Linked DNA regions of Homo sapiens. The protein of the gene in region 3 binds, or shares a complex with, the protein of the main gene of each other region. Each region holds a gene or a part of one and is shown on either strand. Other genes may lie near its edges.

The links. The genes of interacting proteins can lie anywhere in the genome.
Region 1: APOO (region 3) and IMMT share a complex: the UniProt entries of both Homo sapiens proteins name them as parts of the mitochondrial contact site and cristae organizing system (MICOS) complex.
Region 2: APOO (region 3) and CHCHD6 share a complex: the UniProt entries of both Homo sapiens proteins name them as parts of the mitochondrial contact site and cristae organizing system (MICOS) complex.

Annotation. Positions count from the first base shown.
Region 1 is NC_000002.12:86,143,438-86,150,462, reverse strand, and holds the end of IMMT (MICOS complex subunit MIC60), read left to right. Parts: intron 1-2,629; coding exon 2,630-2,761; intron 2,762-4,265; coding exon 4,266-4,395; coding exon of another isoform or gene 4,396-4,427; exon of another isoform or gene 4,428-4,903; intron 4,904-4,975; coding exon of another isoform or gene 4,976-5,093; intron 5,094-5,581; coding exon 5,582-6,195; 3' UTR 6,196-6,527; downstream 6,528-7,025. UniProt on the Homo sapiens protein: Component of the MICOS complex, a large protein complex of the mitochondrial inner membrane that plays crucial roles in the maintenance of crista junctions, inner membrane architecture, and formation of contact sites to the outer membrane.
Region 2 is NC_000003.12:126,699,782-126,707,264, reverse strand, and holds the start of CHCHD6 (MICOS complex subunit MIC25), read right to left. Parts: upstream 3,026-7,483; 5' UTR 2,953-3,025; coding exon 2,866-2,952; intron 1-2,865. UniProt on the Homo sapiens protein: Component of the MICOS complex, a large protein complex of the mitochondrial inner membrane that plays crucial roles in the maintenance of crista junctions, inner membrane architecture, and formation of contact sites to the outer membrane.
Region 3 is NC_000023.11:23,834,932-23,841,956, forward strand, and holds part of APOO (MICOS complex subunit MIC26 precursor), read right to left. Parts: intron 5,447-7,025; coding exon 5,411-5,446; 3' UTR 5,382-5,410; intron 1-5,381. UniProt on the Homo sapiens protein: Component of the MICOS complex, a large protein complex of the mitochondrial inner membrane that plays crucial roles in the maintenance of crista junctions, inner membrane architecture, and formation of contact sites to the outer membrane.

The DNA of each region.
Region 1 (7,025 bases), on a different chromosome or scaffold from region 3:
TAGGCTCCCTGACACCATACTCTTCTGGCCTTTCTCTTACCTTGCTGGCCACTCCTTAACCTCCTTTTCTGCTCAGCCTCTCAAATGGTGGCATACCTGGCATTAGTTCTGAAACGTTTTCTCCATCTGAACTGTCTCTAAGTGTTCTTGTTGAGTCCCGTGACTTGGAAGTTTAAATACCATCTATACCTGATAAATGTCTATCTCCAGCTCTGACCTCTGCCTTGGCTTCAGGTTCCTATCCAGCAGCCTACCTGGTATCTCCAGCTTGATTTTCAGTAGTCATTTCATGCTTATCATGCTCCAAACAGATTTATTTATTCTCTCCAACCTGTCTTCCAGCCCCTCAACTTGTTTCTCTCTAAATAAACTGAGTTGAACAATCTGCTCAGCTATTCCAGCCCAAATCATGCTTTGTTGTTCCTCCATCAACTCATATTCAGTTGCCCCACAGATCCTACCAGTTTTGCATCCAACATAAATCCCAAATCTGTCCACTCCATTACTACCACCTTAGCCCAAGCTGTCATCTTAACAGCTTCCACTATTTTTTCTTTTTCTTTCTTTTTTTTTTTTTTTTTTTGAGACAGAGTCTGTCTTTGTGGCCCAGGGTAGAGTGCAGTAGTGCAATCTTGGCTCATTGCAACCTCTGCCTCCCAGGTTCAAGTGATTCTTGTGCCTCTCAGCCTCCTGAGTAGCTAGACTTACAGGTGCATGCCACCACATGTGGCTAATTTTTGTATTTTTAGTAGAGACGGGGTTTTGCCATGTTGGCCAGGCTGGTCTCGAACTCCTGACCTCAAGTGATCCACCTGCCTTGGCCTCCCACGGCGCCAGAATTACAGGCATGAGGTACCATGCCCGGCCTTCCCCAAGGAATTTAAACACCAAAGTGCTGGGATTACAGGTGTGAGCCACCATGCCCAGCCAATTTGCCCTTTCTTCATACCCTTCTTTCTGTGTCTATTTACGCAGGCAAATAAAACATAGTCGAATCAGACACTACACTGCTGGAAATCCTCCATGGACTACCCATTTCATTTAATATAATTCCAAATTCTTAACCAGTACCCAAAAGGCTTCTTGATCACTGCATGCCATGAGCCATTTCACTGCTCCAGGCACCCTGGTATTTTTTGTCTGTACCTTGACTATATCTTTTGTCTTGGGACCTTTATGTTTTCTCTGCCTAGTACATTGTTCTATCCTCTCTGTTTAAACCTTGAGCTCTAAGCTTAAGTTTTAAGCCTAGATGTCACTTTGTTAGCAAGACTGAGATTTCCTATCCCTTCAGTCCAAAGTAGAGTCTCTGTATTACTTTCTGTTATGTTGCCCTGTTTATTTTAAATGTAAGGTGGGGGAAAAGGAGGTTGAAGGGGTGTTGATGCTTCACAACAGGTCCTTGCCTGCTCAGTCATATGTAGAAATATGTATCACAATCTCAGATGTCTTTTTTGTTTACTGTCTGCTGCCTCCATTGAGATATACACTGTGAGAGCAAGAAGTTCGTCTGCCCTAAGCACCATTGGATCCGTACAGATAGTAGGCACTGCCTGGCACACAGGGCTAGTAGCACTTCATAAATACTTATGCACTGACTGAATGGATTCATTGATTTATTATATTGTTTCTGAGAAAAAATAAGTTCTGGATTTCAGGTAATCAGTGTTAAGTAATTTGTAAAGTGACCTATGGCTATTTGTTAGGCAAGGTATATTTTTTGGTTTTTTTTGGCCCATGTTGAATTTAAATTCATTTAAAAATAAGCAGTTTTCTTTGTTTAGAAGTCTATGTCAAGTCTATGTCAATAACTACCAGATACTTACTAATTTTCTTTTCTTTTTTCTTTTTGAGATGGAGTCTTGCTCTGTCGCCCAGGCTGGAGTGCAGCAGCGCAATCTTGGCTCACGGCAAGCTCTGCCTCCTCGGTTCACGCCATTCTCCTGCCTCAGCCTCCCGAGTAGCTGGGACTACAGGCACCCGCCACCACACCCGGCTAATTTTTTTTTTGTATTTTTAGTAGAGATGGGGTTTCACCATTTTAGTCAGGATAGTCTCAATCTCCTGACCTCATGAGCCACCTGCCTCAGCCTCCCAAAGTGCTGGGATTACAGGTGTGAGCCACCACGCCCGGCCAACTAATTTTCTTAATGATTCTTCAAAGTAGGCATTATTACTCACAAATGAGAAAGTGGAGATTTGAGAAGATAAATCATTTCCCCAAGGTCACACAGATGGTTGTAGTAAAGCTACGCTTGATTCCAAGTATATAGTTACTTTTTTTCATATCCTGGATTTAGTTATTTCTCAGAGGAGCATGTGATTCAGGAAATGGCAGTGTTTTATATGAGAGGCAGCCTGGTGATGTGGAAAAACCACAAGTTTGGGGGTGAGAGAGACCTTTGTTTGAAATCTGGTTTTTGCCACAGCTGTGTGATCTTGTTTGAATCACCTTCCAGGGTTTAGTTTTCCGTTTCACATGAGAAGTAGAAGTGTACACATGCCTGGCACATTAGAGGCGTTCAGGATATGGAAGCTGCTGTTGTCATGGTTGATAGTGGTCTTTCTGTTTTCCTAAAAGTATATGTGGAGAATTGAAAACTAATAACTACTATGTTTGGTTTCACAGATAGAAGAAGTCAGAGATGCCATGGAAAATGAAATGAGAACCCAGCTTCGCCGACAGGCAGCTGCCCACACTGATCACTTGCGAGATGTCCTTAGGGTACAAGAACAGGAATTGAAGTCTGAATTTGAGCAGGTGAGGACCTGGACTCCCTTCAGCCACACCCCTCTTCCTGACAGGATTAAGAGACTCTCCTTTCCTTTTAATGTACTCTGAGGATGTCGAAGATTTGGAAATCTCCTTGTATGTCTACAAAACTGCTTCTTTTTACATAATGGTGTACCTGTGTGTTCATGATCAGATGTGTTTTTAAAATATATATTCTAGTCATTTGGAATCTTCAGAGCTTTAAGGAGAGTTGGTAAAGGGGATTTCAGGAATGCAGACAGTAATATTTGACATGTGTATCTTCCTCCTATAGATGGCATGGTACTGCTTAGATTTTTATAACTGAGGTAATTTCCCAGAGAAGTTTTGAAATCCCAGTAAATTATCAGGATGCCTGTAATCATAGTTTCTATTCAAGAAATCATTTACAGTAATATTAACTTGTTACTTTGTCTTGCAAGAAGATATTGAGGTTTTCTAAGTAAAATCTTCCAGAGAATCGCGATGTATGTCAGTATGAAAAGGTATTTTAAATTCTATTTGGATATTTTTCTGAGAAAAATTAATGTATAAGCTCTTAAATACAAGATATTAGAATATAATTTAATCTAATTATTATGTTTAGGTTTGCAGTACAGATAATTTACTTTCTAAAGCTGACAATTTGTGGCTGAGCACAGTGGCTAACACCTATAATCCCAGCAATTTGGGAGGCTGAGGCGGGTGGATCGCTTGAGGACAAGAGTTCAAGACCAGCCTGCCCAACATGGCGAAACCCTGTCTCTATTAAAAATACAAAAATTACCTGGGCATGGTGGTGCATGCATGTAATCCCAGCCACTCCGGAGGCTGAGGCATGAGAATCGTTTGAATCTGGGAGGTGGAGGTTGCAGTGAGCTGAGGTTGTGCCACTGCACTCCAGCCTGGATGACAGAGCAAGATTCTGTCTCAAAAATAAAATACAGTTGGCAGTTTGTTTCTGACTTTAACAGCCTTCTCTCTTCTCTTGGTATGCCTCCTCTAATATTAGGTTCCATCAGTAAACCTGTAAAGAATTATATACATCGGCCGGGCACGGTGGCTCACGCCTGTAATCCCAGCACTTTGGGAGGCCGAGGTGGGCGGATCACGAGGTTAAGAGATCGAGACCATCCTGGCCAACATGGTGAAACCCATCTCTACTAAAAATACAATAATTGGCATGGTGATGCATGCCTGTAATCCCAGCTACTTGGGAGGCTGAGGCAGGAGAATCACTTGAATCTGGGAGGCGGAGGTTGCAGTGAGCCAAGATTGTGCCACTGCACTCCAACCTGGCAATAAAGCAAGATTCCATCTCAAAAAAAAAAAAAATATATTATATACATCAAATATGAGTCAGGACATTTTTGAAACTTTACACAAAATGTAGGAATTTCGTGACAACTCTAAGGCCCTCTTTGCTTCAGCAAGTAGTTGCTGGAAGATTACACAGTTACATGACATGCATTGAGTATCACTTTTTTCTGGAACTATTTCTGTTTTATTTCAGAACCTGTCTGAGAAACTCTCTGAACAAGAATTACAATTTCGTCGTCTCAGTCAAGAGCAAGTTGACAACTTTACTCTGGATATAAATACTGCCTATGCCAGACTCAGAGGAATCGAACAGGCTGTTCAGAGTAAGCATAAGCTATGTTTATCTTACAGATAATTTTCCTCAGCATAATTTATCAAAATAATTTTATAGGGAAAATGGGGTACATGTACTGACATCAGGACATAAAAATACTAATCACTCTACTTAATTGCAGTTTTTGCCATTAAAAGTAATGGCAAAATCTATATAACTAGAAATTTATACCTTGTATGACAAACACAAAATCACCATTTACAAGGCTATTTACCCAGTATCCTTTGGCTATGTCGCATGTGCCTGGGTGGTAAGGGCTAGGGGTCAGTGTGGTCCCATGCTTGCCTTCCACAGACTTGGTGGGTTATCTGGAGGTGGTGATTTGCCGAGTCCAACTACCAAATGGACAGTATTTATGCTGAGGCCTCCATGTGCCACATTGAAAGAGAAATGTCATGACAATGAGGGTATTAATAAAATGGGTTTTTTTAGGATGTTATGGAATCTTTTTTTGTCACATAACAATAAAAATAAATTCAATACTCATGGAATTTCAAGATCCAGTAGTCTGTTAAGTTCGTTTGAAGTCTCCCATTTCTTTTTTTTTTTTTTTTTTTTTTTTGAGACAGAGTCTTGCTCTGTCGCCCAGGGTAGAGTGCAGTGGTGTGATATCGACTCACTGCAGCCTCCGCCTCCTGGGTTCAAGCGATTCTCCTGCCTCAGACTCCTGAGTAGCTGGGAATACAGGTGCGTGCCACCACGCCTGGCTAGGTTTTGTATTTTTAGTAGACACAGGGTTTCACCATGTTGGCCAGGCTAGTCCTGAACTCCTGACCACAAGTGATCCACCCACCTCGGCCTCCCAAATTGCTGGGATTACAGGCATGAGCCATTGTGCCTGGCCCTGAAGTCTCCCATTTCTTTGCAGAAAATTTCTCATGGCCTTAGCGTTAAGTCTTAGCCTAATTTAAATAATATGTTTCTTTCTCAACTAGTAAAGGTAAAAATATGTGGATTAGATATCATGCAGATGTGAATGACTTCTGACTTTGATATGAAGAGGCCAGCTAGGAAAATACACCAGAAATAAGTGGTGGGGGTGGGGTTGTAAGAAAGTCTCTCTGGCCTCATCTTGCACATGTGTAGATGTAGCTTGTTGAATGTGCATCAGTTCTGTGGATGTATGTTGTCAGATGGAGAGAAAAATGTTTGGCTTTGCCTTTTTTTCTTTGTAGGCCATGCAGTTGCTGAAGAGGAAGCCAGAAAAGCCCACCAACTCTGGCTTTCAGTGGAGGCATTAAAGTACAGCATGAAGACCTCATCTGCAGAAACACCTACTATCCCGCTGGGTAGTGCAGTTGAGGCCATCAAAGCCAACTGTTCTGATAATGAATTCACCCAAGCTTTAACCGCAGCTATCCCTCCAGAGTCCCTGACCCGTGGGGTGTACAGTGAAGAGACCCTTAGAGCCCGTTTCTATGCTGTTCAAAAACTGGCCCGAAGGGTAGCAATGATTGATGAAACCAGAAATAGCTTGTACCAGTACTTCCTCTCCTACCTACAGTCCCTGCTCCTATTCCCACCTCAGCAACTGAAGCCGCCCCCAGAGCTCTGCCCTGAGGATATAAACACATTTAAATTACTGTCATATGCTTCCTATTGCATTGAGCATGGTGATCTGGAGCTAGCAGCAAAGTTTGTCAATCAGCTGAAGGGGGAATCCAGACGAGTGGCACAGGACTGGCTGAAGGAAGCCCGAATGACCCTAGAAACGAAACAGATAGTGGAAATCCTGACAGCATATGCCAGCGCCGTAGGAATAGGAACCACTCAGGTGCAGCCAGAGTGAGGTTTAGGAAGATTTTCATAAAGTCATATTTCATGTCAAAGGAAATCAGCAGTGATAGATGAAGGGTTCGCAGCGAGAGTCCCGGACTTGTCTAGAAATGAGCAGGTTTACAAGTACTGTTCTAAATGTTAACACCTGTTGCATTTATATTCTTTCCATTTGCTATCATGTCAGTGAACGCCAGGAGTGCTTTCTTTGCAACTTGTGTAACATTTTCTGTTTTTTCAGGTTTTACTGATGAGGCTTGTGAGGCCAATCAAAATAATGTTTGTGATCTCTACTACTGTTGATTTTGCCCTCGGAGCAAACTGAATAAAGCAACAAGATGAAAACTGAGTATCTTATCCCTTTTCAAAAAGTACAGTTCTGGCCAGGTGCAGTAGCTCACGCCTGTAATCCCAGCACTTTGGGAGGCTGAGGCGGGTGGATCACCTGAGGTTGGGAGTTCGAGACCAGCCTGACCAACATGGAGAAACCCATCTCTACTAAAAATACAAAATTAAGCTGGGCGTGGTGGCGAATGCCTGTAATCCCAGCTACTCGGGAGGCTGAGGCAGGAGAATCGCTTGAACCTGGGAGGTGGAGGTTGCAGTGAGTCAGGATCGCACCATCGCACTCCAGCCTGGGCAACAAGAGCAAAACTCCGTCTCAAAAAAAAAAAATTCTAGTTTGTTGTATGTACAGAAAATATCCTTGAGAAACAACAACAGCAGAAGTAGGAACTTCTAGCTCACAGTTTCCAGGCTGTGAATTGCGTCACCAGAAGTCCACAGCCTGCTTTTTGCCTTTGAAGGTTTTGGTGAATTGATTCCTGCTGCTCAGACTCAAAA
Region 2 (7,483 bases), on a different chromosome or scaffold from region 3:
TTTAAGACGGAGTCTCTGTCACCCAGGCTGGAGGACACTGGCATAATCTCGGCTCACTGCAACCTCCCCCTCCTGGGTTCAAGGATTCTCCTACCTCAGCCTCCCAAGTAGCTGGGTGTACAGGTGTGTGCCACCATGCCCAGCTAACTTTTGTATTTTTGGTAGAGGCAGGGTTTCACCATGTTGGCCAGACTGGTCTTTAACTCCTGACCTCAGGTGATCTGCCCACTTCGGCCTCCCAAAGTGCTGAAATTACAGGCATGAGCCACCACTACCAGCCACTAACACTTAATCTTACAGGGACGAGAACACTTTCTAAGACCAGGCCTCAGGAATTAAATACAAATGGTCATTAAGAATATTCAACTTGCTCTAAAGAAGCTGGGGCAGATCTTCTTTGGCATCTGCTTCTCATTAAATGAACTGATTTGTTCCCTTTGGCAACTGTTTTGTTGATCTGGCAATCTTTTTCACTCACTTGCCTAAAGACAAGGTGAATTCCTCAACCCTCAAGTAACTCTGCTAACAGAAAAAGCCTCTACACCAAAACATCCTTTCTTCATACCATCACCTCCTTTCTTCAGTTTTCCTCTTTCAAACACAAGCAGAAGGAAGGACGTGGCTCTCATAACGTGGGGCTGTGCACCTTACTGTGCACCTCTGGACAAGTCATTTATCCTCTCTGATTAGTTTGCCCAGCTGGAAAAGAAAGCAGTCAGTCACCAAAGTTCCTTCCAGTTTTAAAACTAAGTGGGGCACTATCATCCCTGTCAGGACAGGTATGGGTATTGTCACAAAATTTTCAGGCTGCCTTGCATACATCATGGGGGGGAATTGCAGAAGTGAGAAAAAGTTGCTTTTTGCACCGAAAAGATCTTAATTAAAGTCCCAGAAGTTACTCAGGTTAACACCTTGGGCAAATTCCTTAACTCCTTTAAGCTCAATTCTCCATCTTTAAATACAGAGAATTTATATGTTGCAGAAGTATTTAAGAGAACTAGAAATGAAATGTACCTGTCTTATATAATACTCAAAAAACATGAGGTTTCCAATCAACTTGAAAGAAGGCACCCCCAAAGGCACTCCCCTGAACCTCTGAGGACTCCAACTTAACTTTCCAACATTCCCCAAAACAGGAGACCAAATCACAAGGGTGAGAGCACCCAAACAGAGCCAAGCTTATCTTTCTAAATTCCAATTCAGGTTCCTCCCTCTCGGCCTTCCAACACAAGCCATCTCCTCCCCCATTTAATCCTTGCCACGAGTGAGGTCCACAAAACTATACAACGCCTAGCAAGCACCAAATGTGCCAAGTACTCTGCTAGGCTAAGAAGAGAGGCCTCCACAAAGCACTCTCTCTGTGCGTTTCCTTAACACTTTCACAGACATCATCTTATCCTAGGCAGTACCTAGGATACATACACACCCAATTTTTTTTTTAATGTGGCCATTGAGGCTCAAAAGAGTTTTTTACCCAAGGTCACACAGCTAATGAGCACCTGCCAGAACTCCTGAAGTCTGTCTTTCTAAGCCACCTCCCTAATTCCTCCTTAATTAACTAATTCATCTACACCCAGCTCTGTGCGTTTCATTTAATCCTAGTCCCTTTTACTGGGTTCATTCATCTCTCCACAGTTACTTACAAAGCACCTGCAGGTGTAGACACAGGTGGAGGAAGAGGCCGAGCACAGCAACATGCCCTGGAATTGGCTTGTTTCAATCCCAGCTCTCCCACTTACTATTTACATGATCTTGGATCAGTTCGTTCACCTCTCAGTGCCTCACTTCTCCTTAATCTACAATAATGGGCTAAATAGGGCTGTTGAAAATTAAATCAGTTAACTTATAAAGGGTTTAGTCCAACGCATGGCCCCTACACTGCAATAAGAGCTGCTTTTATTCTTCTGGGTTCTGGGGACAGTCTTCAATCAGACAGGAACCTTAGCCTCAAAAAGCTTACACTCTAGCAGTAAACGCAATAAACAAGTAAACAATTATCAACAGAAGCGATCACTGTGATGAGTGCTATGAAAATAATAAATGTTGGACGCGGGGTGGGAGGTTACTTCAGATTGGGTGGTCAGGGAAGGATTCTCTGGTGATATCTGAATTACAACAAGAATTACAAGAAACAGCGGGATTTAAGGAGAGCTGAAGGAGAGAGAACAGCCGGCGCACAGACCCTGAGCTGAGCCAGCGGCACCCTCCAGGAAAACACGGCGGTCCTGAGGCTGGGGACGAGGTGCGGGTGCCACGCGAGGGAAATGGCACGAGATGCAGTCCCAGAGGGATGCAGTCCCCAGAGGTCGACGGGCAGCGGCCAGCTTTGGAACCAGGGAAGGCATCATCCAAGCGCGCTAGGAACCCACTGGAGGGTTTCAGGCAAGGAAGGGGATCAGATCTGAGCTATGGTTCTTCCTGCGCCCCGCAGATGTGCTGTGGAGAACAGGCCGGCGGGGAAGAGCTGAGTCCCCAGGCAAAGCCCAGGTGGGAGACACCGCGTACCCAGAACGAGATGCGCGCACCTGAGGGGCCACGGGCTGGGAGGCCGGGCGCAAATTCAAGAAACGTAAAAACTAAGCCGACCGGAGCCAGGACGTGGCCAGGGCGTCCCTCGTGTCCCAGGGGCCTCGCACCTGTACAGTTCTTCACTCCTCCTTCCCTGAAGCCCATGTCGCGAAGCTCCAAGGCTGCCAGCCTCGGGCTCGCGTCTCGGCTCAGCCTCTTCCTGGCCTGAGCCCCCGGAGTCTCCCAAGCCCCACGCCCCTCACGCGTGGAAAGAGCCCCGGCCCTGCGCTCCGCCCCGCACCTCCCCCCCGCGCCCGCGGCCTCCACGCCCGCCCCGGCCCAGGCGGCGCCGCTCACCCGGACACCCTGCAGCACCCGGACCCGCTCCTCCTCGTCCACTCCGAAGGACACCCTGCGGCCCTCGCTGCTCTCCGTGCTCCCCATGGCGAGATGCCGCAGGGCCGGCAGCCACCAGACCCGAGACCCGGCTCCAGAGCAACCGGGCCAACAACGCTTTCCAGGACTCGCGCGGCCGCGGCACACGCCAACAAAGCCACGTCCTATTGGCCGACGCCAGAGGCTTCACCAATCGGGTGGCGCTGAGTCGCGGTGCCTTGTGGGGATTGCAGTCCTTCCGTCTGGAGGGGTGGGGGCGTGGCGGTCTGTGCCTGCTAGAGTGCGTTAGGCTGAGGCCGAAGATGTGTACCGGCGGAGGCCCTGGAGTGGAGGGCTGGGTGCAGGACAGGGTCACGTTCTCGCTTTGGGAGCTCCCCCTTGAGGGAGAGCCAAGGGTGATGTTCTGAGGCCAGGAGACGCCGAGACGGCCAAGGCGCTCATCTGGAGGCGAATTTCTGAGGGTTCACTGCTCCATTCATTCAGCAAACACGTGTAGAGCAGCACGGGCTGAGCGCCAGACGAGCAGGGACCTGGCCCTGGCATTACAGCGCCCCTCAAGACAGCGAGTGTCCTGCCCTTGAGAGGTTTACAGTGCAAGGGGAAAACAAGTGAAAAGCCAAACACGCACGCAAGGAAACTGACTGTAATACACGGAAAACTGCATGGCGATGCCACTAGTAAAATGAACAGAAGGAGGCCTCTTTTAATTTCAGTGGCCAGAGCAACCTCTGAGGAAGAAGCTTTGAACTGAGCCGGCGGGAGAGTAGGATTTATGTAGAAAAAGGTAGGGGAAGAGGTTTCCTGGGAGTCTCAGGCAGGAAAAGAGAAAGAGGGGTCATCCCATGGCTGGAAAGTGAGAAGAGGGCAGAGGAGTGGTGAGGACCCAAATCATGTCGGGTCTTGTGAGGCAGGGTCTGAGTGTGGGTTTTATTCTAAACGCCCCGGGAGGACAGGGAATGGTCCTAAGCCGTTAGGAGGCATTGCCCAAGGAGTGTACATACCATGTGTGGAGTGCAGTGTGCCAGGCATTGTGTGTAGGCTTCTTACACAGGACCCTATGTGTAAGGGAGCACACAGACGGTTGCCAGTCATAGACACTGCTACCTTCAAATAAGCCCCTTTTTGTTCCTCTGAGTTGCTGAATGGCTTTGATTTGCAAAAGTGCGCCTGAAGCCGAGCTGAGGAAAACTAGATGGCTACATGAAATAGCCAGAAAATATTTGGAGCTCCTATTGGCAACCTGGAAAGAAAGGGGTGAGGAGGAGAGAATGATTGAGAGAGAGCAGTAAGGCTCTGAGATTGAGAATAGCTCAGGGTGAAGAAGCTAGTAAACATCCCAGAGCTGGTGTGACGATGGAATCTTTAGGAACAAAGGTGTCTGCTAGTTTCATTCAAAATACTTCATTGGCGCACCCCACTCCATCACCTCTGTCGTCCATTTCTTCCCTATAAGCAGAGCCTGCGTAGGGGATTCTGGTGCAAGGAGTTTCCTGGGGGAGCACCTCAGGAGAAAGGAAGTTAGGGAGACAGGCTAAGAGGGGTGGGGACCGGGGGCCGCGGGGAAAACTGAGTAAAGATGTGGTCAGACCTGGTCCTGGGCTTTCCTTTGTCTCTTTTCCTTGGAGGTTTATGATTACTAATTCAATCTCCTTACTCGTTATTGGTCTGTTCAGATTTTCTGTTTCTTCAAGACTCAGTTTGGATAGATGGTATGTTTCTGGGAATTCGTCCATTTCTCCTAAATTATCCAGTTTCTTGGTGTATAATTGTTCATAGTAGTTGATTATGATCTTTTGTATTTCTGTGATATCAGTTGTAATGTCTCCTCTTTCATTTATACTTTTGTTTATGTGAATTACCTTTTTTCTTGGTTAGTCTAGCTAAGGTTTGTTAATTTTGTTGATCTTTACTGTTGATCTTTTCTGTTGTTTTTCTAGTTTCTATTTCTGCTCTCATCTTTTTTATTTCCTTCAGTCTGCTGACTTTGGGGCTTAGTTTGTTCCTCTTCTAGTTCCTTGAGATATAAAATTAGGTTGTTTGATGTCTTTCTTTTTTCTTAATGTAGGTATTTTTCGCTATAAACTTCCCTCTTAAAAATGTTTCTATTGCATCCTATAAGTTGTGGTACCTTGTGTTTCCATTTTCATTTGTCTCAAGATACTTGTTTATTCCCCTTTTGATTTATTCTTTGGCTCATTGGCTGTTCAGGAATGTGTTGTTTAATTTCCGCACATGTGTGAATTTTCCAAAGTTCTTCCTATTACTGATTTCTGACAACAAACTATTCAAAAAGAAATTAAGAAAATGATCCCACTTACAATAACACCAAAAAGAATAAAATATGAATAAATTTAACCAAGGAGGTGAAAGAAAGATGCACACAAAAAATTGCACACTAAAAATTATAAGACACTGTTGAAAGATACTATAGGAGACATAAATAAGTAGAAAGATAGCCTGTGTTTATAGATCAGAAGAATTAATATTGTTAAAATGGCTTTACTACCCAAAGTAATCTACACATTCAATGTCATCATTATCAAAATTCTAATGACATTTTTCACATAAATAGAAAAAACAATTCTAACATTTCATATGGAACCACAAAAGACCCCAAATCATCAAAGCAATCTTGAGAAAGAAGCAGAAAGCTGAAGGCATCATACTCCCTGATTTCAAACTATATTACAAAGCTGTAGTAATCAAAAGAGTATGGTACTGGCATAAAAATAGATACATAGATCAATGCAGAAAAATAGAGAGCCCATGCATATATGGTCTACTAATGTTTGATAATGGTGCCGAGAATATACACACTATGGAGAAAGGAAAGTCTCTTCAATAATTGGAGCTGGAAATACGGGATATCCACATTCAAAAGAAGGAAATTGGACCCTTGTATTACACCACATAAAAAATCCATTCAAAATGAATTGAAGACTTAAATGTGAGATCTGAAACCCCAAAACTCCTAGAAGAAAACATAGGTGGAAAGCTTCTTATCATTGGTCTTGATGATAATTTTTTTGGCTATAACACCAAAAGCACAAACAACAAAAGTAAAAATAAACGAATGGTATGACATCAAACTAAAAAAGCTTCTCCACATAAGAGGAAACAAGCAGCAAACTGAAAAGGCAACCTACAGACTGGGAGAAAATATTTGGGCACCATATATCTGATAAGTGCTTAATATCCAAATATACTCTATAAGGAACTCACACAACTCAATAGCAAAAATAAATACCCAATTTAAAAATGGGCAAAGGACTTGAATAGACATTTTTCTGAAGAAGACATGTGAATAGCTAACAGGCATATGAAGAGCGCTCAACACCACTAATCATCAGAGAAATGCAAATTAAAACCATGGTGAGATATCACCTTACACCTGTGAGAATCAGTATTGTAATAAAGACAAGAGAAGTGTTGGTGAGGATGTAGAGAAAAGAGAACCCTGCACACTGCTGGTGGGAATATAAATTTGTAGAGCCATTATGGGAGAGAGTATGGCAACTCCCCCAAAAGTCAATACAATCTAATAATCCTATTTCTGTATAGTTAACTTTAGCCTAAAGCTGCTTCCTTGTAAGTTCAGCCTAAAGGTTGATCCATACATAGTGAACTGTAATCTAACTGGATGTGTAAACAGACTGTAACCTACTCTTATAACAAGTAGCCAAGTCTCAGCCAATCAGAAGACATACTACTCACAGGTGGCCAACTGTTCGGTGTTCAAATAAGTCTGTAACCCAGCTGTAACCAATCTGGCTATTTCTGTATTTCACTTCCATTTTATTTATGTCATTTTCCTTTTCCTGTCCCTAAATCCTCTCCAACCCCACTGGCAGCACTGAAGTCTCTTTGAAGCTATTCTGATTTGGGGGGCTCCCTGATTTGTAACTTGTCCTTTTCTCAAACTCTTTAATCAGTCTCAAGTTTTTCCTTTAACAGTATATATCTAAAGGAAATGAAATCTTGAAAATATATCTGCTCCCCCATGTCCATTGTAGTATTATTCAAAATACCCAAAATATGGAAACAACCTGTGTCCATCAACAGATGAGCAGATAAAATGTTTTACACACACATATATATACATACACACACACACACACACGCGTGTTTTATCCAGCCATAAAAAAGGAAATCCTGCCATTTGTGACAACATGGACGAACCTGGAGGACATTTTGCTAAGTGAAATAAGCCAGGCACAGAAAGACAAATACTGTATGATCTCACTTATATGTGGAATCTAAAAAAGTTGAACTCATAGAAGCAGAATAGAACATTGGTTACCAGGGATTAGGAAGTGGGGGCATGGGGAAATGGTCAAAGGGTACAAACTTTAGTTATAAGATGAACAAGTTCTGGCCAGGCACAGTGGCTCACGCCTGTAATCCCAGCACTTTGAGAGACTGAGGCAGGCAGATCATTTGAGGTCAGGGGTTTGAGATCAGCCTGACCAACATGGTGAAACCCCATCTCTACTAAAAATACAAAAAATAATTAGCCGGGCATGGTGGCACATGCCTGTAATCCCAATTACTTGGAAGGCTGAGCAGAAGAATCGCTTGA
Region 3 (7,025 bases):
AGGCTGGTCTCGAACTCCTGACCTAAAGTGATCTGCTTGCCTCAGCTTCCCAAAGTGCTGGGATTACAGCCGTGAGCCACCACGCCTGGCTTTTTTTCATAATTTGTAATGAATATACTCAGCAATTAGAGATTTTTTTTTTTTTTTGAGACGGAGTTTCACTCTTGTTGCCCAGGCTGGAGTACAGTGGCGTCCTCTCGGTTCACCGCAACCTCCATCTCCCGGGTTCAAGCAATTCTCCTGCCTCAGCCTCCTGAGTAGCTGGGATTACAGGCAGGCGCCACCACGCCCGGCTAATTTTTTGTATTTTTAGTAGAGATGTGGTTTCACCATGTTGGGCAGGCTGGTCTCGAACTCCTGACCTGAGGTGATTCACCCGCCTCAGCCTCCCAAAGTGCTGGGATTACAGGTATGAGCCACCGTGCCCGGCACAATTGGAGATTTCTAAATATTTTAGAGGCCAGTGACTATTCACTTGATCTTTTAATATACAACCAAAAATTCTTAAACATGTAAACTACTAGCTTATTTTTTCTATCTCAGTTTATTAATCTGCTTTTGTCTTCCCCAGGAATTTGATAGATTTATTGCATTGTTAAAAACTAAAAACTGGAAACAACCTATGTTGGTAAGGATTAAGTAGATCATGGTAGTCCATACTAGGAAATCATTAAGCAACTAGAGAAGGAATGCGTAGCTCTATTAAGTACTGACAGGGAAATACTTACACAATATGTTATGTAAAACAAGTTCATTCATTCATCAGCATAGATTAATATAGTACTGTCTATGGCAAAAAAAAAAAATGAACCTAAGTCTAATTAAGCCTTCGGATCCAACTATAAGTTTATGGGAAATATAGAGAAGAAAGAAACCAAGAGATAAACAGAATGATACTAAATGGATACATTCGGCCACAGCCAGAACATGAGAAATTCTTTTTTTCCCCTCCCAGCTCAATCCTTGTAGAAAACAGGAATTCTAAAGGACAAATAAGCCAGGTTTTTCAACAGATAAATAGCAAGGGACAATGAGGGAGCGGAAACTATTACAGTTCTAAGAGACCTATCAGTCAAACACAACAGGCAGATCTTGTTTGGATCCTGGTTCAAACGAACCAACTGTAAAAAGTTATTCATGAAACAACCAGGAAAATGTGTACATTGAACTGGATATTAGATGATGTTAAGGAATTAGTGCAATTTCTTTCTTTCTTTGAGACGGAGTCTCTCTCTGTTGCCCAGGCTGGGAGTGTGCAGTGGCACGATCTTGGCTCACTGCAACCTCTACCTCCCGGGTTCAAGCAATTCTCCTGCCTCAGCCTCCTGAGTAGTTTGAACTACAGGCATGAGCCACCATGCCCGGCCTTAATTTCCTTTTTTTCTTTTTTCTTTTTTTTTTGAGACAGAGTCTCACTCTGTCACCCAGGCTGGAGTGCAGTGGCGTGATCTCGGCTCACTGCAACCTCCGCCTTTCGGGTTCAAGCGATTCCCCTGCCTCGGCCTCCCGAGTAGCTGGGACTACAGGCGCACGCCACCATGTCTGGCTAATTTTTGTATTTTTAGTAGAGACAGGGTTTCACCATATTGGCCAGGCTAGTCTCAAACTCCTAACCTCATGATCCGCCCACCTCAGCTTCCCAAAGTGCTGGGACCACAGGCGTGAGCCACCACGCCCAGCCCCAGCCTAATTTCTTTTTTTTTTTTTTTTCCCCAAATCAATAGGTCTTTTATTGCATCATTTAAATATCACAAGTAGGTCTTAAGTGTCATCTGGCATCTTCTTTCTGTAGCCAGGTAACTCTTAGATCTTATTCATCAGCCTGCTGAACAGTTCCTTTTTCAGAGACATAGATACCATCCAAAAATTTCCTGATATCCTTGTTTTTAACTGTTGTGGCTTGCTGAATCAAAGCCGCTGAATTTGAAACAAGCTCAATGTCATTTCCTTCAAGGATTAATTCATCTTTCTGGGCTTGAGATACTGAACAAGCAACACCTGGTCTCATCCGAACCCTGCGGATGTATTTTTCACCCAAAAAATTTCGGATTTCAACAAGAGACCCATTCTCCTGGATAACAACGTTGATGGGGAAGTGAGCATACACAGACCTCATCTTGTAACGGAAGCCCAGTGTAACACCCTTGATCATGTTCTGTACATGACTACAAATAGTCCGAACGGTAGCCAGTTCCTTTCTGTTACCCCACCATTTGTCAACCCGGAGCCTCTTTTTTTTCTTTCCAAGAAGGCTGAGTTCTACATTGATGTGATTGAAGTCCCTCCGCAGGGTTCCTCTGGGGCCCTTCACGATAACTGTGCGTCCCTTCAGAGTAATGTCGACATTTTCTGGAATGTCGACAGTCTGATTGCTGAGAATAGTCTTCATTCTCGCAGTAGACGCAGCAAAGAAAGCCTAATTTCTTTATGTATGATAATATAATTACAATTATATGCCTTCAGTAAGTTTTCTGTGCAGCTACTCAGAAGGGTGAAGTGGGAGGATCACCTAAACCCAGGAGTTGAAGTCCAGCCTGGGTAACACAGCAAGATCCCATCCCCCCAGATAAATAACAGTAAAAAGAAAGTTTTCTGTGAACTTGTAAAACAATATGTGGAATATGATCCCATTTTGTCAAAAAACCAAAAACATGCATGTATGCATGAATATATTATAAATGTATAAATAAATTTATTTAATTTATAAATAAATTTTAAATATAAATAAATATATATATTTGTTTTTGAGACAGGGTATCACTCTGTTGCCCAGGTTGGAGTGCAGTGGAGTGATCATGGCTCACTGCAACCTCTTTCTCCCAGGCTCAGGAGATCCTCCCACCTCAGCCTCCAAGTAACTGGGACTACAGGTGTTCGTCATCACACTCAGCTAATTTTTTTAATTTTTTGTAGAGACAGGGTTTCGCCATATTGCCCAGGCTGTTCTCGAACTGCCAGACTCATATAATCCACCTACCTCAGCCTCCCAAAGTGCTAGGAGTACAGGTGTGAGCCACTGCACCCGGCCTATCTATCTATCTATCTATCTATCTATCTATCTATCTATCTATCTATATTTAAAAGTCTGGAATGATATACCAAACTATTAACAAAAATTACCTCTGGAAAAAAGAATAAAGGGGCCAGATGTGGTGGCTCACACCTGTAATCCCAGTACTTTGGGAGGCTGAGGCAGGTGGATCACCTGAGGTCAGGAGTTCGAGACCAGCCTGACCAATATGCTAAAACCCTGTCTCTACTAAAAAATACAAAATTAGCTGGGCATGGTGGTGCATGCCTGTAATCCCAGCTACTTGGGAGGCTGAGGCAGGAGAATGACTTGAACCCGGGAGGCCTCAGAGGCTGCAGTGAGCAAGATTGCTCCACTGCACTCCAGCCTGGGCAACAAGAGTGAAACTCTATCTCAAAAAAAAAAAAAAAAAAAAGAAAGAAAGAAAAAGAAAAGAATAAAGGATAAGACAAGCTTTTTTGTTTTGTTTTTGAGACAGAGTTTCACTCTTTTTGCCCAGGCTAGAGTGCAATGGCACGATCTCGGCTCACTGCAACCTCCGCCTCCTGGGTTCAAGCGATTCTCCTGCCTCAGCCTCCCAAGTAGCTGGGATTACAGGCAACTACCACCATGCCTGGCTTTTTTTTTTTGTATTTTTAGTAGAGACGGGCTTTCACCATGTTGGCCAGGGTGGTCTCGATCTCTCGACCTCGTGATCTGCCCACCTTGGCCTCCCAAAGTGCTGGGATTACAGGCGTGAGCCACCACACCCGGCCAAGACAAGCTTTTAAAACAGTTAGCTAAAAACATTTTTTACAACCAACACGAATCACTTTTATAATTAAAAGCTACACCTCCTCCAATAAAGATCTAAAAACAATAAAGAATGAAGTCAAGGTTGTGTATTTCAGCAAGCTGAACTCTGGTGCAGAGTATCTTTGAAAATTGAAATGGATATTTACCTAATTTCCCTTTATTCTATGTCTTTTTCATTGTCCCTGTACAGAAATATATCCATTCTGGCTGACAGGGATTTAAAAAAAGAGAGAAATATAACCATATTAAAAGTCAAGTCTCTAGAGGACATGTGTCACTCTGTGGCTGCTCACCCTCCAGTCATCCTTCTAATGGCACATCCCATGCATATCTGGCCCCATTCACCAGAGATACTGATTCTGGGGTGCCCTTTGCCTTTTACCAAGCTCCCCGGGTAATAGTTTGTATCTGAGAACATACTGATGTTGGGTTACTGTATGAACAGCTATGCTGTGAAAGAGGAACTGGATTTGTTTTCTGTGACCACTAAGGAGACATATTTTTGCTTAGCAGAGGAAACAGCTTCCAAAAACTCAGAATTGTCCCAGGATGGCTGCCCCATAGGGTGAGTTTCCCATCAGTGCTGGTGTAAAAGAAGGAACATACAGGGTTTCAGGGGAGTCTGCTTGAGGCTGGGGGTTGGGCCAGATAACCACTCTCAAATTCTCAGTTTATGTGACTCTTTGGGTCTCCAAAAATATAAAGAAAGCTTGAGGAAAAAAGACCCTTCAAACTCAGGGTTTTCATAAATTTTAAGTAAGGGCCATGATTTACAATAAATGTAACACCAATTTTCAAAAAATTTTCTGATTATAAAATGCATACTCATTGCAGAAAATTTTTTAAATACAGAAAGTTATAAAGAAGAAAAAAATATAAAAATCATCATGCCACTGAAAGATACACACTTTCTGTCGTATCTCCTGGCTTCATCCCCTCTATAAACATATCACACTACCTTTTTTTCATTTAACAATAATTGTGCACACGTTCCCATGCAATTAAATACTGTAGAAACAGAATAATAATATTCTTCTTTATAGATATACCATAATTAAGCCATTTTCCTGTAGTTGAATATCTAGGTTGCTTCCAAATTCAATTACAGTCTTCTAATTACCAGGAAATCACAAGTGCTATTATACAATTTTTCATATATACACAAACAATATAACTAGTGTTTTGAGCCTCTCTGTAACAGTCATGCATTCCAGTGTTCACTGAGTATTAGATAAATACAAGTGTACTTACTATAATAAAGTGTTGTTTGAAAAAAACCTAAGGAATAATGACACTTTTCAATTGTTTGAAATACATTTGTAGACAAATCCCAACTGTCTGGTTCTAGCTTGTCTAAAAAACCCAGGTAACATTAGTGGAACAAACACAAATAAGTAAGTCACAGCATTTAAGCCCAGAAACTAAAAGATGGAATAAAATATTTTCACATCAAATTGAAACTGTTATAATTAATTAAATTAAATTAATTAAAAACAAGTCATTTCAGCTGGCACTACAATGCTGAAAATAATCACAGAAATTTCTTGTTTTTTACCTGATTAAGATGGCAGAGCATGGAGTTTTCTACTTAGTTCCAGGTGAATTCTTCACATTTCCTGGCTTTTAAAACAAAAGAAAGAGCTTGAATGCAGTTTGAAAAGAAATAGTGCAACTCCTTAGTGTCCTGAGTATTTGGCTGAACATGAACATTAAAAATTATTATGGGGGACAGGGTCAAACCATTTTATTGAGGACTTGGGGGGTTGTTGAAGAAAGGCTGAGGAGGACAATGAGATCCCACATTCTCGCAGTTACCGACCATTAAATATTATTTTACTGCAAAGTGATCCATCTGTCAGTAAATTGAAGAAGTTACTAGGGCTCTCTGAGGGCCCTACTGTAGAGTGACTTGGGCAGAGAGAGCAGGAAATAAAGCTCCATTAATCCTCATTATGCAGATTCAGCCAAACAGTTGATTCTAATTAAAAAATCAATATATCTTCCTTTTATTTCCTGAAATAAAGGTTTTACACCTATGGGAAGGCTTCCTGTAGGTATTTACTCCATGCATTATTCACCATTATCCACCATAGGGGCCAATCCACAAAACATGTTTACTCTGAAAGAAGTTAGACCACACCCATTCTGCCCAGTGGCCCTCCGGGAACATATAATTAGGCCATGTAATCCATAAGAAGCAGTGTAGGAAAAGCTTCTAGTGGGAAAAGTTCACGTGCTAAACTTTTAAGGCCTTACTTTCTTTTCTATACGTTTTTTAGACTTTAATTCTGAAAACACATTAATAGTCAGAGATCAGATGGCAGTCTGAAAAACAGGAGGCTGCAGCTGGGCGGGCCATGGGGGCTAAGATTCTGTTGTATAGACTTGGAGCAGTTTCTCCTGGTGCCCCTCTTTCAGAGTTATTCATGGATGAAGGAAGAGGAAAAGGTGAGAAAGCAGGAGCACGTGACTAACCCTGTCATTTCAGAGCATGGTTTCTAGGCAACTTTGGGGCTCCCTGGAGTGGCTGAGAACTGGTCTATAAGTACTGTTTTATACCCGTTGTCCCAACATAATTAATAGTGTCCCCTTTCACTCTCAAGAGTATCCTGGTTTGCCGGGCATGTTGGTTCACGCCTGTAATCCCAGCACTTTGGGAGGCCGAGGCGGGAGGATCCATTGAGCCTGGGAATTCAAGACCAGCTTGGGCAACATAGAAAAAGAAGTTTAAAAAAAAAAAAAAAAAAAAAAAGAGTATCCTGGTTTTGATGATAAAGTATATGGTCACCACATCCACTTGATGATGGAGTTCTGGGAAACAAGGCCATACGAACTGCTTGGCGGACCAATGATCAACATACAATTCTCAGGTCTACTTGATGCTCTGAACAAGAGTGCTACAGGACTGAGAATCTGTGCCCTTCTCCTCCTCCAGAGCCACTCCCCACCCTGCCTCCTCACATGCATGCACACAAGCGAACACACATACCCATATGTGAACACACACCCACCTACAACCCAGAGGCCTTTTTGCTGTTGCTCGAAATTGACAAACTCCCTACTGGGACAAGACCTTTGCAAAATATACCCCACTGACCGAGACCAGACAATCCCAATTTTTGCCTAGCTAAATGTTATTCATCCTTTACATCAAGGCTTTCTTTGTACCCTGTCCTTCAATTTAGCAGAACCTTCTATT